5 separate regions of the Homo sapiens genome follow, and regions 2, 3, 4 and 5 are each linked to region 1. Evidence: fine-mapped QTL for protein levels in blood plasma. A gene starts in region 1. Each other region holds a variant in brackets. All regions are shown on one strand. Distances are between the middles of the regions.

Region 1 (5,100 bases):
CAGACTCTGTGAATCACCTATCTGCAACCAACACACACAGTGGTGTCTCCACCCCAGAGGCCAGCCTCAGCGCCGGGCTCTACAGGAACACAAGGGCCAACGGAGGCAGCGGTGGGGGCTCCCAGACATTAAACAGAGGCAAAGAGGGAAGGCCTCTGATGGAGGGGCCAGCTCGCCCTGCAGCCACCCGCCAGACTAAAGCCAGGCAGGGAACCCTACCCTAGCCTCTGGGGACTCCATCCCCTGGAACATGGGCGGGAGGGCAGACCCCTCCCCACCGTTCCAGGACAGACAAAGGTGGCAGCTGCCTGGTGTCTAGGCAGGGTTGTTCAGGCAAGGAGGGTGCTGGGGTGGAGGAGGGGTCCGCAGTCGTGGGGGTTCGCTGACGGCCTCGGGGCAATCAGGGGTCAGTGGGGGGCATAGTGGGGCTGGTGCTGCCCGGCTCGTTGGAGAGGCAGCGCGGGGAAGTGTCTGCCCGGTCCCAGGGCAGGACGGGCCGCCCCCACCCCCGGCTCACCACCCGGAGGCGGCGTTAGCAGCAGCAGCAACAGCAACGGCAACAGGATCCGCGGCGCGGGGACCGGCGCAGTCATGGCTGGGCGGGCGGACGGGCGGACGGACGCGAGCGCCGGGCGCAGTGCCGCCACAGCCTCAGTGATCCGCGCGGCCGCCCCTCTCCCTCGCCCCGCCCCGCCCCGGCCCGGCTGGTTCCCGGAACCTCTGTCCGGGGGAGCAGGAGGAGGAGGAGGGAGGAGGAGGGAGGAGGGAGGAGGGAGGAAGGTGGAAGGAGGAGGAAGGAAGGAAGCGGACGACTTCCCAGCCTCGGGGCCAGCTTCGCGCCCGGGGTCTGCGCGAAAACTTGGTACCGGTTCCCAGACTCGGACAGGCGCCGGGCGACGCACGGAGTTTCCTTCTGCTCACCGGATGCATGGGGGGCGGCGGCGGCCCCCAGCTCTCAGGCCTGGAGGGCGTCCCCGGGAATATGCACCCTGACACTGAGCGCCTACTGTGTGGGCTGGGGGACAGCCACAGCCATCCCTCCCAGCCGCAGTCCCGGCGGATCCTCACTTGCCCGAGGGCTACGTGAGGACTAGGTGAGGCGGTGCGAGGACAGTGCCCAGCGCAGACCTTGGCACTCAGTAGACACTCCACAAATGCCGGTTCCCTTCTACAGGCCCAGTCGCCAGCTCAGAGGACACTCGATCTCCTGCCCCCTGGGACTGACACCATCATCCCAAGGTGATCCCCAGCCCCAGCCCTGGCAGGCTCAGCGCTGGCGCAGTGGGCCAGGACTGAGCTAGAAACTGGCAGCTCCCAGGGCACACAGCCAGGCCAACTTCCCACACAGGGCTCCGCCCCCTCACTTCGGGGCAGGGGTCCAGGCAGAATCAGGGATGTTGAGTCATTCTTCCTTTTATGCCCAGAGTTCCTGACCCACCCCCACTCTGCACCTAGCACAATCAGAACATTTCACTCAAGACAGAAAACGTGAAATGTCACACTAGTGGGGCACCCAGGCTGGGTTGTGCACCCTGTGTGCCACCATATATTTCTCACCTAAAGGTGGGGGCATCGCTGTGGACAAAGAGAAACCCAAGGGGACAATCTGGGATGTTCCCAGTAGTTTCCCAGGCTAGGGTGTTAGAACAGGGAGAGGAAGGCCTGGGTCTCCAATAAGCCCCCATCACCTCCTGGCCAAGAAGGGCTTAAGACTCACCGTGCTCAATACACATGTGGGGGGCAGGGATATGACAGTTCCCAGGCAGGATGCCCTCTGGGAGGGTCTTAGTGAGGGACTGGAGTCACATCCTCCCTGACAGCCCAGCCTGGTTATCCCACCTCTGCCTCCTGAGCGCCACTCTCCAAAGCTGGGTGCAGCCTAGGTCCCCCTTCTGCAGAATGGCCAGTGTATGCTCCTCATGTCCAGCTCTAGAGCCATCCTGTGTTCCACACCCTGGGTGCCCAGCCCTCTGCCTCCCTAAAGGTTGCTCATTCCACTCTGCACCATCCACAAGCTTGGTTTCTTGTTCCTTGGTTTTCCAGTCCCTGCCCCCCAGCCAAGCTCCTAAGAGTTGTTCTAAGCCTGGGCAACATAAGGAGACCCCATATCTACAGAAAATTTTAAAATTAGCTGGGTATGGTAGCAAGCACCTGTGGTCTCAGCTACTTGGGAGGCTGAGGTGGGAGGATCATTTGAGCCCAGGAGATGAAGGTTGCAGTTATGATTGTGCCACTGCACTCCAGTCTGGGCAACAGAGCAAGACCCTGTCTCAAAAATAGAAAAACAAGGCCTGGTGCAGTGGCTCACACCTGTAATCCCAGCACTTTGGGAGGCAGAGGCAGGCAGATCACCTGAGGTTGGGAGTTTGAGACCAGCCTGACCAACATCTCCATGTTGGATAGACATGGACCAACATCTCCATGTTCAGTAGAGCCCCGTCTCTACTAAAAATACAAAATTAGCCAGGTGTGGTGGTGCATGCCTGTAATACCAGCCACTCAGGAGGCTGAGGCAGGAGAATCGCTTGAACTCGGGAGGCAGAGGTTGTGGTGAGCCAAGATCGCGCCATTGCACTCCAACCTGGGTGACAGAGCAAGACTCCATCTCGAAAAAAAAAAATGAAAAAAAAAAGAATTGTCCTTTCCCACCTCCTATGCTTGCCTTTGGCTTCTCTACTCTGCTGCCCCCAACCCCAGATCCTTTAGGGGCCTCTCACCTGGCCTCTTCCTCCCTACTTTTTTGGTCTTTGGCTCTCCCATACCCTCTTATCTGCCCACAGCTCATGGTTGAGCTTGGTGGGTGTTTTGGGCTCCACCCAGGGCTGTGCATGGGCAGGAGTGAGTGGAGGCTAGGATCACCCCAGTGGCTTGGAAATCGCAACCATGCATCTCACAGGCATGTGCCCATGTGTGCAGGCATTTTCTGTGGGTCTAAGGGAGGAGACCACCCCTCATATTGTCTTATGCCCCATTTCTGCCTCCAAAGAAAGAAAAAGTAAAAACTAAAAGGCAGAAATGAAATCCACAAGCAGACAGCCCGGCGCCACACCCTGGGTCTGGTAGTTAAAGATCGACCCCTGACCTAATCAGTTATGTTATCTATAGATTACAGACATTGTATAGAAAAGCACTGTGAAAATCCCTATCCTGTTTTGTTCTGACCTAATTACTGGTGCATGCAGCCCCCAGTCACGTACCCCCTGCTTGCTCAATCGATCACGACCCTCTCACGAGCACCCTCTTAAAAGGGACAGGAATTGCTCACTCGGGGGACTCTGCTCTTGAGACAGGAGTCTTGCCGATGCCCCCGGCCAAATAAACCCCTTCCTTCTTTAACTCGGTGTCTGAGGAGTTTTGTCTCTGCAGCTCAGGCTTGCAAAGCCTGGAAATACAAGTTGCCTGGGGAAAGTGACCCCTCCAAGGCAGAAACCAAACTTGGCCCAGATGCTGTACCAAGGCTAGGACTTGGCCCAGATGCTGTACCAAAGCTAGGTGGCTCCCCAAACCTTCCTACAGCTCTGTAAACAGCAATTTTTTTTTTTTTTTTTGAGACAAGGTCTCACTGTCACCCAGGCTGGAGTGCAGTCACGGCTCACTGCGGCCCCAATTTCCCCAGGAAACTGGGGTGATCCTCCCACCTCAACCTTTGGAGTAACTGGGACCACAGATGCACACCACCACGCCCAGCTAATTTTTGTATTTTTTGTAGAAGTAGGGTTTTTGCCATGTTTCCCAGGCTGGTCTCGAACTCCTGGGCTCAAGCAATCTGCCCGCCTCAGCCTCCCAAAGTGCAACAGCACTTTTATCAAACTCTCCTCAAATACCCAGTTTGTTAAGAATGACTGTGTTCTGCTGGGACCTTGGTTACAGTTTGTAGGTGAGAACTCTGCATCAGGCTGGTGGAGCAAAGCAACACCCACTGATGCTTGTAAAGCCCAGGGTGAGAGTAACCAGGTGAGAATGAGGCCATCAGCCCAGCCCCAGGACTGACTGCAGGACCAGATCGGTGAGTTCTACAGTGGAACGCTTGCTCAAGGATCCTTGCCATTCTTCTTCATTCAGCACCTGGTCCCCTTTCCTCCACATCAGAGGAGGAACACGCTAGATATTATCTTTTTCAGATTCCTTTGCCCCAGGGCAAGAGCTTTTGCCCAGCCCCAACCAATCAGATGTAGCCTCCCTGGAGTCAGTCAGGGGTACTGGCCACCAGCTTTGATGGAGGGCTGCAGCAGTCCTGGCAGAAACATGAGTCTGCACCTGTGGGGAGGGCTGTGTGAGTCACAAAGGCCCCTGCTTCCCCCTCGTGGCAGGAGCAGTGGCATGCTCACCAGGCCAAAGTAGCACTGTGGTTTGGGCTGGAGACGATACTGCTTCGACTTGGAACCTTTCTTTCCAGCCGCCTTGTTGGCTCTGAGGGCTCCACAGTTGCTTTTCATAAATTGGGTTTCTGATTAAGTTGGGCAGAGTCAGTTTCCTCCAACTGACAGAGAAGTTCTCACCAGGGCCGGGCACCGTGGTGACTCATGCCTGTAATACCAGCACTTTGGGAGGCAGAGGTAGGCAGATACCTCTTGAGCGCGGAGTTTGAGACTAGCCTGGGCAACATGACAAAACCCCGTCTCTACAAAAAATACAAAAATTAGCTGGGCATGGTGATGCGTGCCTGTATTCCCAGCTACAAGGGAGGATTGCTTGAGCCCAGGAGGCAGAGGTTACAGTGAGCTAAGATTGCACTACTGCACTCCAGACTGGGCAACAGAGCAAGACTCTGTCTCAAAAAAAAAAAACCTAAAAAAAAAAAGAAAACATCTGGACAAGGTGGCTCAAGCCTGTAATCCCAGCACTTTGGGAGGCCGAGGCGGGTGGATAACCTGAGGTCAGGAGTTCAAGACTAGCCTGGCCAACATGGCGAAACTCCATCTCTACTAAACATACAAAAAAAATTAGCCAGGCGTGGTGGCGTGCACCTATAATCCCAGCTGCTCAGGAGGCTGAGGTGGGAGAATCACTTGAACCAAGGAGGCGGAGGTTGCAGTGAGCCGAGATCGCACCACTGCACTCCAGCCTGGGTAACAGAGCGAGACTGCTTCAAAAAAAAAA
Region 2 (5,100 bases), 1.8 Mb after region 1:
TGATGACCGAGGCACTACTGGTGTTTTCTCCTGAGAGTTCGCTGCTGCACTCCCTCTCACGGAAAGGCCGAGCACGCTGCCACTGGGTGCTGCAGCTGCTGGCCCTGCTGTGTGCACTGCTGGGCCTCGGCCTTGTCATCCTCCACAAAGAGCAGCTTGGCAAAGCCCACCTGGTTACGCGGCATGGGCAGGCAGGGCTGCTGGCTGTGCTGTGGGCAGGGCTGCAGTGCTCAGGTGGGGTGGGGCTGCTCTACCCCAAGCTGCTGCCCCGATGGCCCCTGGCGAAGCTCAAGCTATACCATGCTACTTCTGGGCTGGTGGGCTACCTGCTGGGTAGTGCCAGCCTCTTGCTGGGCATGTGCTCACTCTGGTTCACTGCCTCTGTCACTGGTGCAGCCTGGTACCTGGCTGTATTATGCCCTGTCCTCACCAGCTTGGTCATTATGAACCAGGTGAGCAATGCCTACCTATACCGCAAGAGGATCCAACCATGAGCTCTTCCCAGCCTAGGGGAAGCCTGGATTTGCCCCTCCATGTAGGAGCTGGGCCTAGGGACCTGTTGAACTCTCTCAGCTGAGTCAGGGGACACCTCAGGCACTGGGACAGTTGGGCATTTGGAGGCCCGTGTGTGAATTCCTGCTCCTCATGCTGGAGTGCCTCCCATTTCCTTCCCCTTTCTCTGTCATCCCAGAGGAACATAGGCATCATGTGTCTGGATGAAGCTGGGGCTGCAAGACTGCCTCTCCTGCAAGGCAGCTCATACTTGTACTGTATGTTCAGAAATTTTAGGAGAGAAAAAAGTAAAAAATTTGTAAAAAATGACTGAAAAGATTGATGGGAGAAGCAGCCCAGAGTTGGGGATGGTTCTTGTTAATGCCATCAGCACAGGAAAATGGGCAGCTGGGCAAGATGGGGACCCCCCACCCCCGACCCCTGGCTGCTCCCTGAGGGGCTGAAGCTCTCCTAGCACACAAATCCCCAGGGTCTAGCTGCTGAGCCTCCCAGGCCACTCCGGGCCCTGGCAGGCCCTAGAGCTGTAGCTGTGAATGGTACAGCTGTGTGTCCTTTCTGTCCCCCCAACTGTCTACTGTGCTGGAGTCTCCAGACTGTGGGGGTTAGATACATACAATAACTGGGAGCTGGGGGTGAGTTGTCTCCAGGGGTGGCAAGAACTGAGCATTCTGTCTTAGAGATAAACCATGGGTAAGAACAGCGCCTTATGATGGAGAGGCCCTTATCATCAGATCTAGGCAGGGACAGAAGGCCTCCCAGATTGGGGTTTGGAGGGAAAGAAAAAAGGAGTAAGAGTCTGAGGCAATAGCTCTTGGAAGGCTGCTTGGCAGTGCGCATGTGGTGGTGGTGGTGGCGGTGGTGGGGAGCTGGGGCAATGGGCTTCTTATCCAGCTGGAGTTACCATGGAGACAATCAAGTCCCTGTCTAACATTGCAGTTGAACGTGATGAGGGGGCTGCACAAGGTGGCCTGACAAGAGCCCAGGAGTCATTCCTCAGAGAACTGCTTTATTGATACTGCGAGCCTGGGCTTGGCTGCCCACTCAAGTGGTCCTGTAGAAAATACCTGGGAGCTGGAGCTGTTCTGGTCCAGAAGCAGTCACCGCCACAGCAGAGGGAAACAAATCCTGACAGGAACAGTCTTTCTGGGGATGGGCAGGGATGTGCAGCCCCAGGTCGGCTCCTGCATTTGCTGGGCCCCCAGAACATTTTTGGCAAATCCTTGCCTTGGCTCAGGGCTCTCGGCAACCAGTTTCAGATGTGAGGGCCGGCCCAGGAGCTGTGGCATCAGTGTCCCTGCAGCCACTTGCTTGGGGCTGCCAGCTGATGTACATTCTTACCTCAGATGAGGGCCTGGACTGGCCGATGCCTCAGAGGCTCCGGGCCTGGCATAGTGGTTGTCTGGAGTTGGAACCAGGTAGCAAGAGTCCTGGGTAGTGTTGGCGAGAAACAGCAGAAGGCCATGGAAAGCCCCAGCAGGCCTTCTTCCCTCTCCTCAGAGCAGTCAGGTGCCCTGGAGTAGCTGAGAGGATGTCAAGGGGGGCTTGGGAGGGGAGGTGCCACACTCAAGGTGGTCTGGAGTTACAGCGTCGGGGGAGCTGCCTCGAAGGTGATTAGACTGGATTCTGGGGCAGCCCCCTTCCCTGGGGGTGTGGGAGCTTTGTCTGAGGGCAGGGGGCTGTCCACCTTGGCCCCAGACTCCTCTTCATCATCATCCATGCTGGGCCAGATGGACTGGTCTTCCACTCTCTTCAGCCGCTCATTGAGTGCCTTCAGGGCCAGTTGCCTGGGGCCAGAGGAGAGAGGAAAGGTCACTCTGGGTTTGGCCTTGGCTCATGCCCTCTACCCTTCCGCAGCAGGCTGACTCCTCACCGTACCACCTAGACTCCTCCCCCAGAATCCTATGTTTCCCCTTCACCATGCAGAGCCTGGGACTCCCCAGAGATTGGTTTAGGACCCACTCTGCCATCAGAATGATAACCCAAAGGCTCTAAGAATCTTCCCTCCATAGCTGAGGCACCTCCGGGATGGGAAGGTCAGCTGGGTGTCTGCCAGACTGCCCACGAGGCCAGCCACCAGGAATGGTTCTGAGGGTGGTATCTAAGGGTCAGTGGAACTAGTGCCCTAGGGCAGATGGGTGGAACGGCAAGTTCTGGAGTTTCCAGGAGTTTCTGCCTGGGTGCTGGCATCACATCCAAGGGAAGGGTTATTAATTCTCCCCCTCTCCTGGTTAGGGGTATCTTGAGCCTCCTGGCAAGGGTCA[A/G]TGGGGAAGGCTGGAATTCAACACCTCCCTTGGCTCTCAGCCCAGGAAGCAGGGCCAACTTGGGTGAGTCTACCCCTCCTAACTGATGCTAATATTCTCCCTCTCAGAAGAACCCCCAAAGCCACCAAGGCCCTTGTTAGAGCAGGGACTTAGCGGAGCCCTTGCAAGAGGAGAAGAAGGAGAAACAGCTCACATGGGTAGGCACAGGCCAGAGCCTACTGCTTCCACAGGGTGGACCCTTAGAGGCCCCACTTTGAGGGCAGGTGGGAAAGTCCAACAGAAGAAGGTTTACACATGTGCTTGGGACCCTGACCCACCAGAAGGTGGAGTGCTGCAGCTGCCAGGGAACCGTTTCAACAGTGACCACTGTGGACTCCTATACCTCAGCCTCTCTGTGCCACCAATGTGGGGACAGCCTGTGTAGCCTTTCAGGTTCCAGCTGAGAACCAAAATCTCCACCATGTCAGGGAACACGACAAGAGAGGCAACAAGGGCACAGGTGTAGAAAGCCCTAGCACGCTTCCCCCCTGCCCGTCAGTCTCACACATGACAAGTTGGTATAGACAGGACAGTCTTTCCCTGCTGCTACCCAGGCTGCCATCCTGATGATGCCCTTGCCAGTTCCATCTAAAGCCTGCCAAGGCAGAGAGCTAGTGTTACGCTAGTCACTTCCTCACAAGGACCAGAGAGACAGATAGGAAACCCTGCCTCCCTCTCCTGGTAGCCCTTTGGAGTTGGGCGTGGCCATGCAGTCAGATGTCAAACTGGCTGGAGGAATAACCGCCACCCCCATGTAAGCTAACAACCATAAGGCTATGCCAAGAACCCGCCTCTTGACCCTCCCTTCCTCCCCACCAACCTGCTTCCCCCCTGTCCATTTTCTTGGGCCTAGGCAGAGGTTTTTGAATGTCCAGCCAACCCTAACATTCCAACACCTCTCAGTGGAGGAGGGGTCCCCACTGGCCTGGCCCCACCTGAATGGCTCTGAGGGACAGCTCAATTCCTACCAGGCCCAGCTCACCTGGCCCCATCTTTAATACCAGCTAAGGTTAAGAGAGACTTCTGTCCTTAGGGCTTATCACCTATAAAGACCCAAGCTCTAGGGCCCAGAATTATGCCCTGCAGCATGCTGTATATACTTTTCAACACCTACCATACCTTGGGCCATAGTGATCTGTGGCCCTTCCCCAGCTGGAACTCCTTCAAGAAAGGAGTGTGTCCCACACTCAATTCCATAGCCCAGTGGAGAGTAAATACAGGGATAACTGCAGCTAAATTCATAGAGCTTCCTGCCACAACCCCATTCACAGGTGAGCAAAAGCAGGAGCCTTGGCAATGCAAAAGACAAAGCCCGTCCCAGATTTTACTACTCGAGTAATTGCCTCAAAACAGTGAGGAATAATGTTGGAAATGGAGCTGTGGATCTTATGAAGGCTGGGACCACTCTGCTGGCTCCACAGATCTGGGAGAGAGAGTAAGCTGAATTTAAAAAGATCCCTCCTGCCCTGGCCAAAGTGCATTCAGTGAATAATTCAGCTGGGACTCCTGATGCTGTGGATAGCTTGGTTTACAGATAATGAAAGGGTCATCGCCACTCCCTGGTGTCAGCAGGCTCCCTCAGTGGGTCATGTAGCCTGTCCCTGGTTTTGGTGACACATGCTTGCTGGAGACAGAGGTAAATGTGGTAATACCCCAAGCTTCCCTCTCAATAAGTAAGTGGCAGAGAAGCACAGCATCTGAGTTAAAGCCCAGGAAGAGGACACAGCATTTGGAAATTGGAGTGGCCCAGATCACCTTTTGAGGACCCCAGGCCTCCTTCCCTGTCCCTTCCTCACAGGGGAAAGTACCAGCAGGTTGCTTCTGGCTCCCACAGGCCCAATGTCTAGGATTCTGAGATTCTGAGGCAAGGCCAGGGTTCTGTGTCCCTCCACTGGGACTTCACAGCACCAAAGGAAACTGCATTTCTTGAGACTTATTAAGTGGCCCGAGTGGTGAGAAAAGTGCCTCGTGGACCCCAGACACCTAACTGCTGAGTTCCTTAAGGCCAAAGACTGATTTTGTCTTTCCGGATGTGCCCCAATACCTGACTGTAGGTCTCCACCTATGTACAGCGAACACCTCAACAGATGGCATGTGACTCGACCAGTATGCTCCTAGCTTGACAAGATTTTGGAAAATTTCACAGTACCTTCTCCGCTCGGCGTCTTGAGGGTCTGTGCCTGGCAGGCTGATGGTGATGGAGGATGGGGCACCCACATCGTAGCGCTTCACCGTCTTCTGGCATATCTTTACCTTCACCAGGAGGCTGTGCACCAAGTTCGCCAGC
Region 3 (5,100 bases), 1.2 Mb before region 1:
ATGGGGTCTGTTATATACTGAATGCTTTTTATTTGTTTTTTTGAAACAGGGTCTCACTATGTCACCCAGGCTGTAGTGCAGTGACACAATCACAGCTCACTGCAGCCTCAGTCTCCTGGGCTCAAGTGATCCTCTTGCCTCAGCCTCCCAAGTAGCTCGCACCACAGGTGCACACTACCACACCTGGCTAATTTTTTTTGTTTTTAGTAGAGATGAGGTCTTGCTATGTTGCCCAGGCTGGTCTTGAACTCCTGGCCTCAAGCGATCCTCCTGTCTCAGCCTCCCAAAATGCTGGGATTACAGGTGTGAGCCACCACACCTGGTCAAGACTGAATGTTTTTGTCCTTATAAAATTCATATGTTGAAGTTGTAACCCCGACGTGATGGCATCTGGATGGAGGACTTGGGGAGGGGGAGGTAATTTGGTTTAGTTGAAGTCAGAGGGTGGGGCCCCCATGATGGGGTTAGTGTCCTTATAAGGAAAGAGACCAGAACCCTCTCTTTCTTTCCATGTGAGGATACGCGAGAAGGTAGCCATCTGCAAGCCAGGAGGAGGGCCCTCGCTAGGCATTGAATCTGCTGGCACTTGAATCTTGAACCTTCCAGTCTCCAGAACTATGTGAAATAAATGTCTATTGTTTAAGCCACTTAGTTTATGGTATTTTCTTATAGCAGCCTGAACTGAGACAGGGTCAGAGAGGACACACACATCTGTGAGGCTGGGAGGTAAGGGGAAGAGAGAAAGAGAGGCCACCACATGTACCTAAAAGAGGATCCAGGAGAAAACAGCAGAGGAGAGATGATACAGGGCAGGGAGGGGCAGGGACAGGAGAGGGAGGTATGAGTTGGAGCTTTGCTCAGGGTGGCACTCAGTTAACAATCAGACACTAGTGACTGTGTTGTCAGGCTCAACACAAAGGCCTAGGGCTATGGGGATGATAAGACAAAGCCCCCGCTGCTCTGTACAGGAGGCTGCAGGGGAAGGGAAGACACCATGGGAGAGAGGCCCTCGCCCCAAGTCTTCAGGCTGTGAAGGATTCTGCCAGCTGTCTCCTCAGGACAAGAGGAAAAGAGAAGGTATTCCTAGCACAGGTAAAAAGCCTAAGGAAGGTTCTGAGGAGTGAATAGCATAGTGTGTTCTGGGCACAGTGCTTGATTCTGCCTTTCCAGGTGTCTGAAGTCACTGTGAATGTGCTGCAGGTGAATCCATGCCACCAGGAGGGAGCAATTCTATCATCACCAGTGGCAGATGTGCCAAACCTGTCCCTCCCCAAAGACACAGACCCTCCTCCCTGGGCAGCAACTGTACCCCCTCACCTAACGAGTCCTTCAGAGCGTGGGTGAGCTTGCACTGCCGAAAGGGGATGTGGTCCCGCTTCTGGTCCCCAAGGGCAATGATGGCCTGCTCCAGGAATGAGAGCGATTTGTTGATGTAGGTGGCTTCCTTCAGGACTTGGCCCTCAGACTACAAAGCAAAGGTCAGTTCCACTTTGGATGGAATAAAGCAGCTGCCCCACTAAGAATAGCAGTCTTCCTGGTCTGGAGAAATGCTATAAGTCTGTGGTCAGGTCAGCGCCTCCTTCCCAGAACCAGGGTCTTCTTTCAATGTCATGCGATTGTATTCCATCTTGGGCTAATAATGGTAATACCAAAACTCAGAAATATTCATGTGAACACTCATGTGAATACTCATGCGAATGTGAATGCTTACATGAATATTCATATGGACATTCACTCAAAGATTCACACTAATATGAATATGTACTGAAATACTTGTCTAGATATTTGAGCAAAGAATCCTGTGAATATTCACACAAACACTCATGAATGCACATACAAATGCTCATCTGAATACTCTTGTTAATACTTCTGCTAATACACTCATACAAATATTTATTTGAAATACTCATGCAAATACTCATACGAATACTCATATTCATTCACAAAGAAGCCAGGTGTGGTGGCTCACACTTGTAATCCCAGCACTTTGGGAGGCCAAAGCAGGAGGATCGCTTGAGCCCAGGAGTTCAAGTTCAGCCTTGGCAACATAGCGAGACCCCGTCTCTACAAAAAAATTTAAAAATTAGCTGGTCATG[G/A]TGGTGCATACCTGTGGTCCCAGATACTTGAGACACTGAAGTGGGATGATCACTTGAGCCTGGGAGGTCAAGGCTGCAGTGAGCTGTATTTGTGCTACTGTACCCCAGCCTGGGAGACACGGCGAGACTGTGTCTCAAAACAACAACAACAAAAACACACACAGAGAAATGCTATACCAGCAAGGAATATTTACTGAGCACTGAGTGCCAGGCACTTTGCTAAGAATGTAGAGGGCACTATCTCATTTAATGTTTACAAAAATCCTCTGAGGTAGGAACCGCCCCCAGGTAATAGCCGTTCCCTTTTTGCAAATCCTGTCCCTCCAGCAAGCCCACATGTCCCACTTCGCCTAGCTCAGGACTGTGTTCACAAATATCCAATGAGTCATGGCCCAGATGTGCAGGCACTGTGCCAGAAAAAGGGCTTGTGGTTTATTGAGTAGCAACCTCCAGCCCCCATCACTTACCCCAGACTTCCCCAGCCTCTCTGAGCCTGCCAGATCCACCAAGTTAATTTTGGAAGTGATGTACTTTTCCTCTGATAAGGTCCGGGAATGGGCCTACAAAACATCCAAGCAGAAGTTAGACTGTCACAGGGAGAAGTTTCTGACTGAGCAGGCCCCGTGGGAATTGACTGCCCCGCCTGGGCTGATCAAAGAGCTTGCACCTACCTCTAAGTAGATGGTGAAAATGCAGTGTGATCTGGAAGAGTTTTTGTTCATAGTGTGGGAGGCTATAATCCTGTTGGTCTCACCCTGAAGAGGAAGGGAATCATAGGCAACATTTCGAAAAACTAAAACGACAAGGCACTTGGGTCATTTTTCAATTATACCAATAGCTACACAAGTGGTCTCATATCACTGCGATCAGCTGGGCCTTCCAGGCAAACCTCTTTTATAAACTAATAGAAAGGGAGTCAAATTGGAGTCCACATCTACACTTTCACCCGCCGCTGGGGAAGTGTGAATTGGTATAGCTTTCTGGAAAGCAAAGTGACAATAAAAATCAAGAGCCTTAAAAATGTTTATGAATATTGAATCAGAATCAACCTGCATGTCCAACAATTTGGGAATGATCTATGTATACAGTGGGATATTGGGCAGCCAGGAAAATGCTGACACATAGTTTTTAATAACAGAGAGAAATGTAGAATCCAAAATCATATTATAGCTGATCTAAGAAATGCAAAAGCATTCATAGAAGAAATAAGCAGAATTCTGCTAATAAGATGTTAATAATAGTTGCTTCTGGGTTGGGGTTTATAGGTTATTTTATCTTTTTTATACAGTTTTGTGGGTTTTTTTTAGTGAGCATGTATTACTATAAAAATAATAATTTATATTTTTATTTATTTTGTGTTCTCCTTTTTTTTTTTTTTTTTGGGAGAGCATCTCAGTCTGTCACCCATACTAGAGTGTGGTGGCACGATCTCGGCTCACTATAACCTCTGCCTCCCGGGCCCAAGCCATCCTCCCACCTCGGCTTCCTGAGTAGCTGGGACTACCAGCGTGCACTACCACACCTGGCTAATTTTTGTATTTTTTGTAGAGACAGGGTTTCACCATGTGCCCAGGCTGGTCTGGAACTTATGAGTTCAAGAGATCTGCCCGCCTCGGCCTGCTACAGTGCTGGGATTACAGGCATGAGCCACTGTGCCTGACCTAGTAATTTGTATTTTTAAAGGGACAGTAGGCCCTTACCTCTAATTTACAGGAGGAGGCCTTATGACCAGAATATACTTAAAAAGGAATTTTTTGTAGAGACAGGGTGGTGGTGTGGTGGAAATGGCTGTTCTTGGAGAAAAAGGTCCTTGAGGGATAGACTGATGTCTCCTTAAATGCTGATGAGAAGTGCTATGAACAAGCCCCAAAGTGAGGGTGGGGGACAGCCCCCCCTGGGGAGAGGAGAGCACCCGCTGAAGAGGGAAGGCCTGAGGCTGTGGAGCAAGCCTAGCAGACTCCTGTGGCCATACCTCTATAGCTTATAGTAGTGAGGCTATAGTCTATGGTCAGGCCTGTTCTACAAATCCAGTGACACTCACCAAGAATATAAGGGGTCACTTCATTTTTCTTCTTCTTTTTTTTTTTTTTTTTGAGATCATTCTCACTCTGTTGCCCAGGCTGAAGTGCAGTGGCGTGATGTTGGCTCACTGCAACTTCTGCCTCCCGGGCTCAAGTGATCCTCCTACCTCAGCCTCCCAGGTAGCTAAAATCACAGGTACAGGCCACCATGCCAGGCTAATTTTTTATATTTTTTTGTAGAGACAGGGTTTCGCCATGTTGCTCAGACTGGTCTTAAACTCCTGAGCTCAAGCAATCCTCCTGCCTTAGCCTCCCAAAGTGCTGGGATTACAGGCATGAGCCACCACAGCAGGTCATTCACCTTTACTCTTCAGTCCCCCTTCTGAAGTACCCTCTTGCCTTGTCTTTCTTTTTTTGTATTTTTAATAGAGAGGGGGTTTCACCATGTTGGCCAGGCTGGTCTCGAACTCCTGACTTCCAGTGATCCGCCTGCCCCGGCCTCCCAAAGCTCTGGGATTACAGGTGTGAGACACCGCGCCTGGCCTTGCCTTGTCTTTCTGGCCCTTTAAAAAAGATCCTGCTATTGACGTTGAGGAAGTAAGTTGCTATGTTGTGAGAAGGCACTATGATCATGCCTGTGAATAGCCATTGCACATGTGCCCATTGCCTGGGCAACACAGCGAGAACTTGCATAAAAAAATAAAGAGTTCCTAGCCTATATGACTTCTAAAAGAATAACATACACTTGACTGATTTCTTTTCTTGTTTTTGAGACAGAGTGTTGCTCTATTACCCAGGTTGGAGTGCAGTGGCATGATCTCAGCTTACTGAAACCTCTACCTGCTGGGCTCAAGTGATTCTCCCACCTCAGCTTCCCAAGCAGCTGGGACCACAGGCATGCGCCCCCATGCCTGGCTAATTTTTGTATTTTTGGTAGAGGTGGGGTTTCACTGTGTTGCCCAGGCTGGTCTTGAACTCATGAG
Region 4 (5,100 bases), 1.0 Mb before region 1:
AATACAAAAACTTAGCTGGGCGTGGTGGCAGGCACCTGTAGTCCCAGCTACTCGGGAGGCTGAAGTAGAAGAATCGCTTGAACCCGGGAGGTGGAGGTTGCAGTGAGCCAAGATTGCGCCACTGCACTCCAGCCTGGGCAACAGGGCAAGACTCTGTCTCAAAATAAATAAATAAATAAAAATAAAATCCTGGACTCAAGTGATCTGCCTGCCTCAGCCTCCCAAAGTGCTGGGATTACAGGCATGAGCCACCATGCCCGACCAACACCAGGTTTTAATTGATAAGTAAGCAAGGATAAGGAACAGATTCTGTACACACGGAAAAATACAGAGAAAATTATATGCTAGTGATTAAAGAAATGTCCATTTCACACTAGAATCATTTTTATGGACCATATCACACCTTATGATCCTGTTTTTCTACCCCTGTATTAGTCCATTCTCACACAACCACCACTATTAAATTAATTAAAAATAAGTTAAACCCAAAGTTGACAGAGCAAAATCTCTGCATCATTGTCAACTGGCTCCATCATTCTGAAGAACAACCTGATAATGTGCCAGGGCCAGTTTCTGCTGTAATTCAATAATTCCATTAGAGGGTATGGACTAAAATGTCATCACCCCTCACTTCTCACAGGCCCCTGTGCTGGTTTATTTATAGCACTTATTGTGGTCTAAGTTAAATATGTCCTTTGTCGATTCTGTTGATTGCCTGTCTTCTCTTCCAGAACGTAAGTTCTATGAGCTCTGCCAGTGACCTGGTTTGTCAGGTTCTAAACAAACAAGTACTTATCCCCACCCGCAATAGGTAGAGTATATAAAATTTATAACAGCATAATTGATAACTGTAAAAACCAGAATCTACATGCCCAGAGGATAACTAAACAAACTAGAATATAATGATAGCATAAAATGCTGAATAGCTTTTTTTTTTGAGACTGAGTTTTGCTCTTGTTGCCCAGGCTAGAGCACAATGGTGCATTCTCGGCTCACTGCAACCTCCGCCTCCTGGGTTCAAGTGATTCTCCTGCCTCAGCCTCCCAAGTAGCTGGGATTACAGGTGCCCACCACCACGCCCAGCTAATTTTTGTATTTTTAGTAGAGATAGGGTTTCACCATATTGGCCAGGCTGCTCTTGAACTCCTGACCTCAGGTGATCCACCCGCCTTGGCTTCCCAAAGTACTGGGATTACAGGCGTGAGCCACTGTGCCCCGCCCTCAATAGCTATTAAACATAAAATATTTAAGGGGAGGCTGAGACGGGAGGATCTCTTGAGCCCAGGAGTTCAAGACTACCCTGGGCAGCAAAGTGACACCCCGTTTCTACAAAAAAATTAAAAACAGCCAGGCATGGTGGTGGGCACCTGTAGTACCAGCTACTCAGAATGCTGAGGTAGGGGAGGATCACTTGGAATTCACGTGAACTAAGAAGTGCCACACTGCACTCCAGCCTAGGCAACAGAGAGAACCTGTCTCAAAAAAAATAGTGAAAACATCTATAAACTAAGTGAAGAAACATGATAGCAACATTTATGTCATGTAAAAAATGGTGCCTTGCCCATTCAAAATCGTAGCTCAAACGAAGTTTGCATAAATAATGAAGTCTTAGTCAAAGAATCATTAGATTCTTTAATAACTACTTTCTCTTAATTGCACTCATAACTTTCAAATATTCTATCAGGTCTACAGTATTTTGAGAATAAAAGCAGCTTACTGTTTCAGACGGATAACATACACAATGGTATGATTTGAAGAGAAGTGTGATAAATTTTTCCTAAAGACTAAAAATCCAAAAAGTTAAAATTAAACAACAGATATGAGCTGGGCGTGGTGACACGCACCTGTAATCCCAGCTACTTGGGAGACTGAAGTGGGAAGAGCCCTTGAGCCCAGAGAGTCGAGGCTGCAGTGAGCTATAACCACACCACTGCAGTCCAGCCTGAGCAACAGAGAGAGACCATGTCTCAAAACAAAGAAAAGAGGCTGGGCATGGTGACTCATGCCTGTAATCCCAGCACTTTGGGAGGCCAAGGCAGGCAGATCACCTGAGGTCAGGAGTTCAAGACGAGCCTAGCCAATATGGCAAAACCCCATCTCTACTAAAAATACAAAAATTAGCTGGGCACAGTGGCACGTGCCTGTAATCCCAGCTACTTGGGAGGGTGAGGCAGGAGAATAGCTTGAACCCGGGAGGCGGAGGTTGTGGTGAGCCAAGATCATGCCACCACTGCACTCCAGCCTGGGTGACAAAGCAAGACTCCATCTCAAAAAAAAAAAAAAAAAAAAAAAAAAAAAGGCCAGGCATGGTGGCTCACATGCCTGTAATCCTAGCACTTTGGGAGGCCAAGGCAGGCGGATCATGAGGTCAGGAGATCAAGACCATCCTGGCTAGCACGGTGAAACCCCGTCTCTACTAAAAATACAAAAAATTAGCCGGGCATGGTGGCAGGTGCCTGTAGTCCCAGCTACTTAGGAGGCTGAGGCAGGAGAATGGCATGAACCCGGGAGGCGGAGCTTGCAGTGAGCCGAGATCGGGCCACTGCACTCCAGCCTGGGTGACAGAGCAAGACTGTCTCAAAAAAAGAAAAGAAAAGAAAAGAAAATAACAGCTATGTAAGTTCCTTAGTATACAGCAAAATAGTATTATTTTTTCATTTTCTTTAAGATAAAATTCATTGTAATATAATTTATATACCAAAAAAGCAGCCATTTTAAGAGAATACACCTGGTGTCTACTCTGAGGTGACCTCAACTGAGGGGCTGAGTGGGACTAGTTGTCATCTACAGGATGCGGGGCAAGAGCCCACCTCCTGCAGTCTTCACAGGTGAGGGAGGCACCAGCAACTCGCCAAGGCCTGATCCGCCTGGCAGCAAGAACATCCCTTACCCCTCTCACCAAGACCATACACACCTGCGCCTACACAGGGCCTCATGTGGCCAAGGCCCTGGTGCCAGGCCCTTGATGGCTAGGATTTGTTGGCATAAAGGCAAGGCACCACAGAAACTGGAGAAGCCAAAGGTCCCCACCTTTGGGTGGGGAGCTGGCCTCTGGGTTCCATGACTGTCAGTCAGCAAGT[G/A]TGGACTGTGGAGTGAGGCACAGTTACTTACAGCCTGCTGTGCAGCCTGTGTGCTTCCAAACCTCTCTAGGTCTGTTTCCTCGCTGAACTCATAGGGAAAGGGAAAGTACCTTTCCAGGATGGAAATTGAACAAGACAACCCACAGGAAGCTCCAGTGTGGAAACTTACTTTATTCCAGCCATGATTATCCTAGTTGTCACCTTGCACACCTGCCATCCGGTGCCATCTCCTGGCTGGCACATCTATACCCACTCTGGCTCTGAAAGGCTTGTCAACCAAAAATGGGCAGCTGGGGCTAAGGCATATTTAAACAAAGGCTCCAAAGGACCCCTTTCACTTGGGTCTAGCATCCAGCCTCTCTCTCAGCAAAGGCAGGATTGTGGTCCCTTGTGTTTTCTGAACAGGGCCCAGGGCAGCCAAGGCATGCCATCACTGCAGCACTCAACCCTCTGGTCACAGTGGAGTCGCCGGTCCAGCCTGAAATATTACTACAGAGGAGAAAGACCCATTCTTGCTATGTTGCTCTATCTTCCACGTCCAAAAACAGTCCTATGTAGCTTCAGCTGCTCCGAAATCAGGTCACAGAACAGCAGGAGACATTCCTTTGGCAAAAAAGGACACGCTTTTGTCCTGTATCTTATACTGGTAAGTGAAGCTCTGATCCCGGTGGACTGCGGGCTGCGATGGTCTCCTCCACAGGATCCTCAGCTACAGAGACAGAGAAGAATGAAAGAGGAGCAGCCACCCCAGGACCTGCTCCACTGGGAACCCCACCCTACCTTCTCTGTGCCCTTCAGCTGAGGCCTCTATGAGATGATAGTCAGATGTGCCATCTGGTAATGGGGCCAACTTGTAAAATAAAGCCTATCACCAGCTAACTACAAATAAAGGGTTCCCCTCCATTACAGTAGTCATATTGGCTCAATACAGAAAATGTGAAAGAGGAAAAAAAAAGGAAACAGAAGGAAAAAGTCTTTCAGAGGAAGACCCTTAAAGTATTTTTATGTTTTTTTTTTTTTTTTTTGAAGCAGAGTCTCACTCTGTTGCCCAGGCTGGAGTGCAGTGGCGCAATCTTGGCTTACTGCAACCTCTGCCTCCTAGGTTCAGGCAATTCTCCTGCTTCAGCCTCCCAAGTAGCTGGATTATGGGTGCGCATCACCATGCCTGGGCAATTTTTGTATTTTTAGTAGAGGCGGGGTTTCACTATGTTGGCCAGGCTGGTCTGGAACTCTGACCTCAGGTGATCCGCCCACCTCGGCCTCCCAAAGTGCTGGGATTACAGGCGTGAGCCACTGTGCCCGGTCCCTTTGTTCTTTCTTCTAAGCATGGTTTTGTACTTGCGGGCTAGACTAATTTTGAAAATCACATTAGAATTTGTACATTCACTACAGAGGCCCAGGAAGGCTAGATACCTGTTTTGATGGTGTTACTGCTGACTACAATGCTCTGGGGGTCTGGCTGAAGAGAGGCCACAGCTGCCCAGCAGCACCTTCTCCTCAGGCCCTGCTGCAGCACTACACACATAGTACTGCTGGGCTTGGTCCTCTGTGTGACCTACCAGACTTGCCTCTGAAGGACTCTGGGCCAAGACTCCTAGCCACTCTTATTGGGTCAGGAGTGCTCAACTTGAAGTTAACCAGGAAGCTGTGGTGGAGGCTTGGGAGTGGTTCCAGAAGAGAAGTTTGAGAAGGCACAGAGCCACATGGCAGCCCATTTAGAGGGGTAGAATCCAGCTTCCCTCCCAGGGCAGGACTCTCAGTTTCTGCCCAAGTACTCCAATTGTTCTGGTGAGTGGCAGCAGTTGGGGCAGCAACCCTGGTCCACGGGTACGGCCTCCCCAAGTCGTTTTTCTTTTTTCTTTTTTTGAGACAGAGTCTCACTCTGTCGCCCAGGCTGGAGTGCAGTGGCGCGATCTTGGCTCACTGCAACCTCCGCCTCCTGGGTTCAAGCGATTCTCCTGCCTCAGCCTCCCGAGTAGCTGGGACTACAGGCCCACACCACCATGCCTGGCTAATTTTT
Region 5 (5,100 bases), 770 kb after region 1:
GGGACAGGTTTTGTTAACATTCAGTTCCCTAATCAATGCAGAGTCTGAGCAAAACATCTACCAAATAAAAAGATAAGAGTGTTTTGGCCGGGAGTGGTGGCTCTTGCCTGATCCCAGCACTGGGAGGCCACAGTAAGTGGATTACTTGAGACTAGGAGTTCGAGACCAGCCTGGACAACACAGCAAAACCCTAATACAAATATTAGCCAATCATGGTGGCGTGCACCTGTAGTACTAGTGTAGTACTATGGCTACTTGGGAGGCTGAGCTGGGAGGATCACCTGAGCCCAGGGAGGTTGAGGCTGCAGTGAACTGTGATCGTGCCACTGCACTCCAGCCTGGGTAATATGATGAGACTCTGTCTCTCCCCCCAAAAAGTGGTGGTGGTGTTTTTTCTTTTGAGATGAGGTCTCGCACAGTTGCCCAGGCTGCAGTACAGTGGTATGATCATAGCTTGAACTCCTGGGCTCAAGTGATCCTTCCACCTCAGCCTCCCTAGTAGCTGGGATTATGGGCACACACCACTGTGCCCAGCTAATTAAAAAAAATTTTAAGAGACAGATCTCGCTATGTATGGTACCCAAGCTAGAAGAGAGTGTTTTTTGTTTTTTTTTGAGATGGGAGTCTCACTCTGTCCCCCAGGCTGGAGTGCAGTGGCAAGATCTCAGCTCACTGCAACCTCTGCCTCCCGGGTTCAAGCAATTCTCCTGCCTCGGCCTCCCGAGTAGCTGGGATTACCGGCGTGCACCACCACGCCTGGCTAATTTTTGTATTTTTAGTAGAGACGGGGTTTCACCATATTGGTTAGACTGGTCTTGAACTCCTGACCTCATGATTCGATCTCCTCGGCCTTCCAAAGTGCTGGGATTACAGGCATGAACCACCGTGCCTGGCCGAGAGCATTTCTTATATCTGAGATATTTGCTGACTCAGACCCATGTGAAGGACCTATCTTCCCAAGGACAGGATGGACTTGCCCACTGTACTCACCAATCATATCAAGCAGATCCTTTGTGACCTCTTGGCTAGAATTGTTGAGTGGCATGTTTGAGTCAGCCTTCAAATCTCTCTCCATATCTTTCCTGCAGCCCCCAGGTGGGGGGGAAGAAAAGGTGGGGAATTAGATTCTCTTTCAAGAAAATATTGAAGGGAAACTCAGTTTTAGATAATCTCAAAGACAAAAACTTACTGGTGACCTTGTCATTTATGCTTTGATTAAAGGACAATTGGAAACTGCTACATCAGTGGAGAAATTGACTAACAGCTTTACCATAATGACTCACGAGCATCGCAGACTGTATTAAATTTTTTTCTTTTTTAGAGACAGGGTTTAGCCATGTTGCCCAGGCTGGTCTCGAACTCCTGGGCTCAGGCGATCCACTCGCCTCAGCCTCCCAAAGTGCTGGGAATACGGGCATGAGCCACCTCACCCAGCCTGCATTTGTTTACTTATTTATTTATTTTTATTTTTTATTTATTTTTTTGAGATGAAGTCTCGCTTTGTCCCCCAGGCTGGAGTGCAATGGCGCAATCACGGCTCACTGCAACCTCTGCCTCCCAGGTTCAAGTGATTCTCCTGCCTCAGCCTCCTGAGTAGCTGGGATTACAGGCGCCTGCCACCACGCCCAGCTAATTTTTGTATTTTTAGTAGAGATGGGGGTTTCACCATGTTGGCCAGGCTGGTCTCGAACTCCTGACCTCAGGTGATCTGCCCGCCTCAGTCTTCCAAAGTGCTGGGATTACAGGAGTGAACCACCGCGCCTGGCCTGTTTGTTTTAAAGACAGAGTCTTGCTCTTGTCGCCCAGGCTGGTGTGCAAGGGCGCAATTTCGGCTCATCGCAACCTCCTTCTCCTGGGTTCAAGCGATTCTCCTGTCTCAGCCTCTGGAGCAGCTGGGATTACAGGCGGCCGCAACGGCACCCAGCTAATTTTTCTATTTTTAGTAGAGACGGGGTTTCACCATGTTGGCCAGGCTGGTCTCAAACTCCTGACCTCAGGTGATTCATCCGCCTCAGCCTCTCAAAGTGCTGGGATTCAGGCGTGAGCCACTGTGCCCAGCATTTTTTTTTTTTTAAGATGGAGTCTTGCTCTGTTGCCCAGGCTGGAGTGCCATGGCAAGATCTCAGCTCACTGCAACCTCTGCCTCCAGGATTCAAGCAATTCTCCTGCCTCGGCCTCCCAAGTAGCTGGGATCATAGGCGCGCGCCACCACGCTCGGCTTATGTTTGTATTTTTAGTGGAGACGGGGTTTCACCAGACCTCAAGCGATCCACCCACCTCAGCCTCCCAAAGTGCTGAGATTACAGGCGTGCCACCACACCCGGCAAGGCCTGCACTGCTTATGAGTACCAATATAAATATTTGTGGAGTTGAAAGGAAAAAAATTCTTGTGGAGTTGAACCAATTAAATGGCCTCTTTATCCCCTTCCTATGAAGCAGCCAAGATGGCAGAACTTTGAA[G/GTTTTTTT]TTTTTTTTTTTTTTTTTTTTTTTTTTTTTGATACGGAGTCTCGCTCTGTCGCCCAGGCTGGAGTGCAGTGGCGTGATCTCGGCTCACTGCAAGCTCCGCCTCCCGGGTTCATGCCATTCTCCTGCCTCAGCCTCCCGAGTAGCTGGGACTACAGGCGCCCGCCACCACGCCCGGCTAATTTTTTGTATTTTTAGTAGAGACAGAGTTTCACCGTGTTAGCCAGGATGGTCTCGATCTCCTGACCTCGTGATCTGCCCGCCTCGGCCTCCCAAAGTGCTGGGATTACAAGTGTGAGCCACCGCGCCCGGCCTGAAGTTTCATCTCATACATTCATCCCTTCTCCAAGTCAAGGTGCCTGGGACCAGGCAATTTCAAGTTACTCGGGAGAAGAAAAAGTCTAGAAGAGACCTGGTGATGGTCCAAAAAGATCTGGGGTAAGAGCGGGGAGCAGAGGCAAAGATGAAGCCAGGAAGTAGGGCCCAGCCTTCAATTAAGCCTCTCCCTAATGTGGGCAAAGGAGGGTATCAAAGGCCCCAGTGTCCAGATTCAAACACAGGAGTTAAGATGGAATTAAGACTTTTGTTTCTGCAACTTAAAAAATAAGGTTATTTTTAAAACCCGGTTATTTTACATCCACTACCCCTTTGGGTACTGCAAAGTGGTTTCCATGACTGGTTTTTGACATCAACGATTGACAACTAGCCCCTCAACTGGAACATATACACAAAATATAACTGTTTCCTAGGCCAGATTCTGAAGAATGTCTGTCAACTCCCCAAATGCAGTCACAGAGCTGCCAAGAGGAGGCAAGAGCACTGTCATGAACTAAATCTAGGATCTTCAACAACTTTTTCAGAAACAAGAATCCCCTTAATTGTAGCTGTTAAACCATCAAAATTAGAATCACCTTAAATTTTCTTTTCTCCAGTTTTCCCCCTCTCCTGCAGTTCTCCAAGACTCTCTTTCAGGTGCCAAAATGGAGGAATGCATCAATACATTTTCCTTGCTGGTTAGAGGTTTTCTCTCGGGGCACAGAGCATGTGGTTTTGCATTTACCGGGGCATGGTTTGTTGCAAAGGCAGGGTTCTCATTCTCAGGAGCACATGGGACAGCAGCAAAAGGAGCAGCAGAAGAGCAGGCTGCCAGAGGATGTCTTCTGCAGAGGAGCCTGTGCACGGGCAGCGAGAAGGAGAGCGGCGCGGCGCTCAGTTCCAGCCTCTGCTGGCCTGTGCACTCCTGGGAATAACTAACTCCTTCAAAGGCCCGGTCAATGGCTGCAGTCAGTTCCTTTCTGCATCTTCTTAGTTTTTCAGACATTTCTCCTAAAAGCGACCATGTCTTTATGTAATGCATTGGAAATGCACAGGACAACACAATAATGTTACAAATGAGGCTGCAAACTACCCCTGAATGGCCACGATTTCCTGGAGCTTGGCCCTGGCTATAGCAGGACCCACAACCCTCGGGCTTTCCTCCTGGAGTAGGCGGTTCTCGGCTCTCGCGGAGGAACCCGCCATCTGCCAGAAGCCCCAAAGACGCCCCGCCCCACTTCCCACAGCTTCCTGGCCCGCCCCGCCGCTGCCTCCCGCCCCACCGCGGCTCCCAGGCCGCTGGCCCTACCGGCACCCCCCCTTTGGCGAGTCGGCAGCCACGTCCTTGTCCTCACCCGCAGCGCAGTGACGCCGACCCATCCAACGGTCATCGCATGCGCGTGCCCCGCGCAGGCCCCAAACCCCCACGGATTAGGTTGAAGGTCAGACAAAAAATCCCGGACCCATACGTCCGGTTCCTTAAGGCCTTGCCCACACGCAGCGGCTGGCCCCGCGGTGGGAGTGGGGACGGGGCTTTCGAATGGGGGCCCCGGGAAGAGTCTTGGCAGGGATGAGGAAAGAACCCGTTCTAGAAAGCATCTGGGTAACACCAAAATGTATTACTACCCTAAATCGCCATGAACTGGAGCCCTTTCCCGGCTAACTCCCACAAAGATTTCTGTTCTCAAGCCAACATGGAAACAACTAGACGGGACACAGCACCGGGCAGTTTTATGTACTGACTTCCTTTAAGCGTTATCTAATAAAAAGTGTGTTATCTAATAAAAGTTCCACACAGTATTTAACCGTCTTAATTCATCTAGGGTAGCAGGGGATATAACAGAACTGCTGGGTTCCACAGGAGGTTGAGGGGCCAGGATCCCCAACACTAGATATCTTCCTTAGCGGGGAGAAAGCTGGAAATTACAAGATGACTCAACGGAGAAATGGGCTTCAGTGGGTAACTTTCAGAAAATTATAAACCCATATCAGTGCACATAGCGAGGGAAAGGGGAGTTTACTTGAGGTTTGGGTTACTGTGAGCAGACTACTTGGGGTGACTAGTATTGGCATCAGAACCAGAAATCCAGGCGCTCAGGGCAGCCCTGCAGGTGGGGTGGGTCTCCAGGCTGCTCCATACTCAGCGCCTGTGTTCCTCTCCATTCTTCGGGATCCATCAGACATACTCCATTGAGTACCCCCATCCCACCCCCTTTTCAGCTTCACAGGTTTCACAGAAATTTCTCACCACCTGTTTAAAAATAAAAATAATTCAGCCTCTTGACATAGCTTCTTCTAGGTAAACGGTCTTCTTTTTTTTTTTTTGTT

Alleles and levels. Positions count from the first base shown, and alleles are read on the strand shown. Strength reflects both the effect of a copy and how common the allele is.
For the plasma level of the protein whose gene starts at base 673 in region 1, A is the high allele of the variant in region 2 and G is the other (weak association).
With allele G in place of A in region 3, the plasma level of the protein whose gene starts at base 673 in region 1 is lower (weak association).
For the plasma level of the protein whose gene starts at base 673 in region 1, allele A in region 4 goes with a lower level than allele G (moderate association).
With allele GTTTTTTT in place of G in region 5, the plasma level of the protein whose gene starts at base 673 in region 1 is lower (weak association).

What was found. PIP is the posterior inclusion probability: the model's chance that the variant is causal. The UK Biobank Pharma Proteomics Project read protein levels with antibody pairs (Olink). The fine-mapping took linkage between variants from a reference panel, not from the people measured, so its PIPs are less certain.
Region 2: its variant is fine-mapped to the plasma level of the SHISA5 protein (UK Biobank, PIP 0.92).
Region 3: its variant is fine-mapped to the plasma level of the SHISA5 protein (UK Biobank, PIP 0.94).
Region 4: its variant is fine-mapped to the plasma level of the SHISA5 protein (UK Biobank, PIP 0.99).
Region 5: its variant is fine-mapped to the plasma level of the SHISA5 protein (UK Biobank, PIP above 0.99).

What each region holds. Positions count from the first base shown.
Region 1 is chr3:48,503,502-48,508,601 of GRCh38, forward strand. SHISA5 (shisa family member 5) reads right to left here and starts at 673. Exons shown (of 6, transcript NM_016479.6): 1 at 518-673. The coding sequence starts at 593. RefSeq lists silencers at 328-377, 388-867 and an enhancer at 1,205-1,758.
Region 2 is chr3:50,353,251-50,358,350 of GRCh38, forward strand. It overlaps CYB561D2 (cytochrome b561 family member D2), which reads left to right. Exons shown (of 4, transcript NM_001291284.2): 4 at 1-819. The coding sequence ends at 494. It overlaps TMEM115 (transmembrane protein 115), which reads right to left. Exons shown (of 2, transcript NM_007024.5): 1 at 4,963-5,100; 2 at 1,500-2,297. The coding sequence ends at 2,093. It overlaps LOC127898564 (CYB561D2-LOC101928965), which reads left to right. Exons shown (of 5, transcript NR_183066.1): 3 at 4,868-5,100. Among named protein-coding and RNA genes, the nearest start is that of TMEM115, 3.7 kb to the right of the region's middle. The variant A/G (reference allele first, on the strand shown) is at 2,775.
Region 3 is chr3:47,264,413-47,269,512 of GRCh38, forward strand. It overlaps KIF9 (kinesin family member 9), which reads right to left. Exons shown (of 21, transcript NM_182902.4): 6 at 2,768-2,851; 7 at 2,564-2,656; 8 at 1,318-1,465. Among named protein-coding and RNA genes, the nearest start is that of KIF9, 16 kb to the right of the region's middle. The variant G/A (reference allele first, on the strand shown) is at 2,097.
Region 4 is chr3:47,492,409-47,497,508 of GRCh38, forward strand. ELP6 (elongator acetyltransferase complex subunit 6) reads right to left here. Exons shown (of 7, transcript NM_001031703.3): 7 at 3,232-3,789. The coding sequence ends at 3,661. Among named protein-coding and RNA genes, the nearest start is that of ELP6, 19 kb to the right of the region's middle. The variant G/A (reference allele first, on the strand shown) is at 3,081.
Region 5 is chr3:49,273,059-49,278,158 of GRCh38, forward strand. It overlaps C3orf62 (chromosome 3 open reading frame 62), which reads right to left and starts at 4,174. Exons shown (of 3, transcript NM_198562.3): 1 at 3,369-4,174; 2 at 991-1,082. The coding sequence starts at 3,814. USP4 (ubiquitin specific peptidase 4) reads right to left here. Exons shown (of 22, transcript NM_003363.4): 22 at 4,086-5,100. It overlaps MIR4271 (microRNA 4271), which reads left to right and starts at 1,062; the gene lies at 1,062-1,128. RefSeq lists an enhancer at 3,788-3,857 and a silencer at 3,998-4,197. The variant G/GTTTTTTT (reference allele first, on the strand shown) is at 2,461.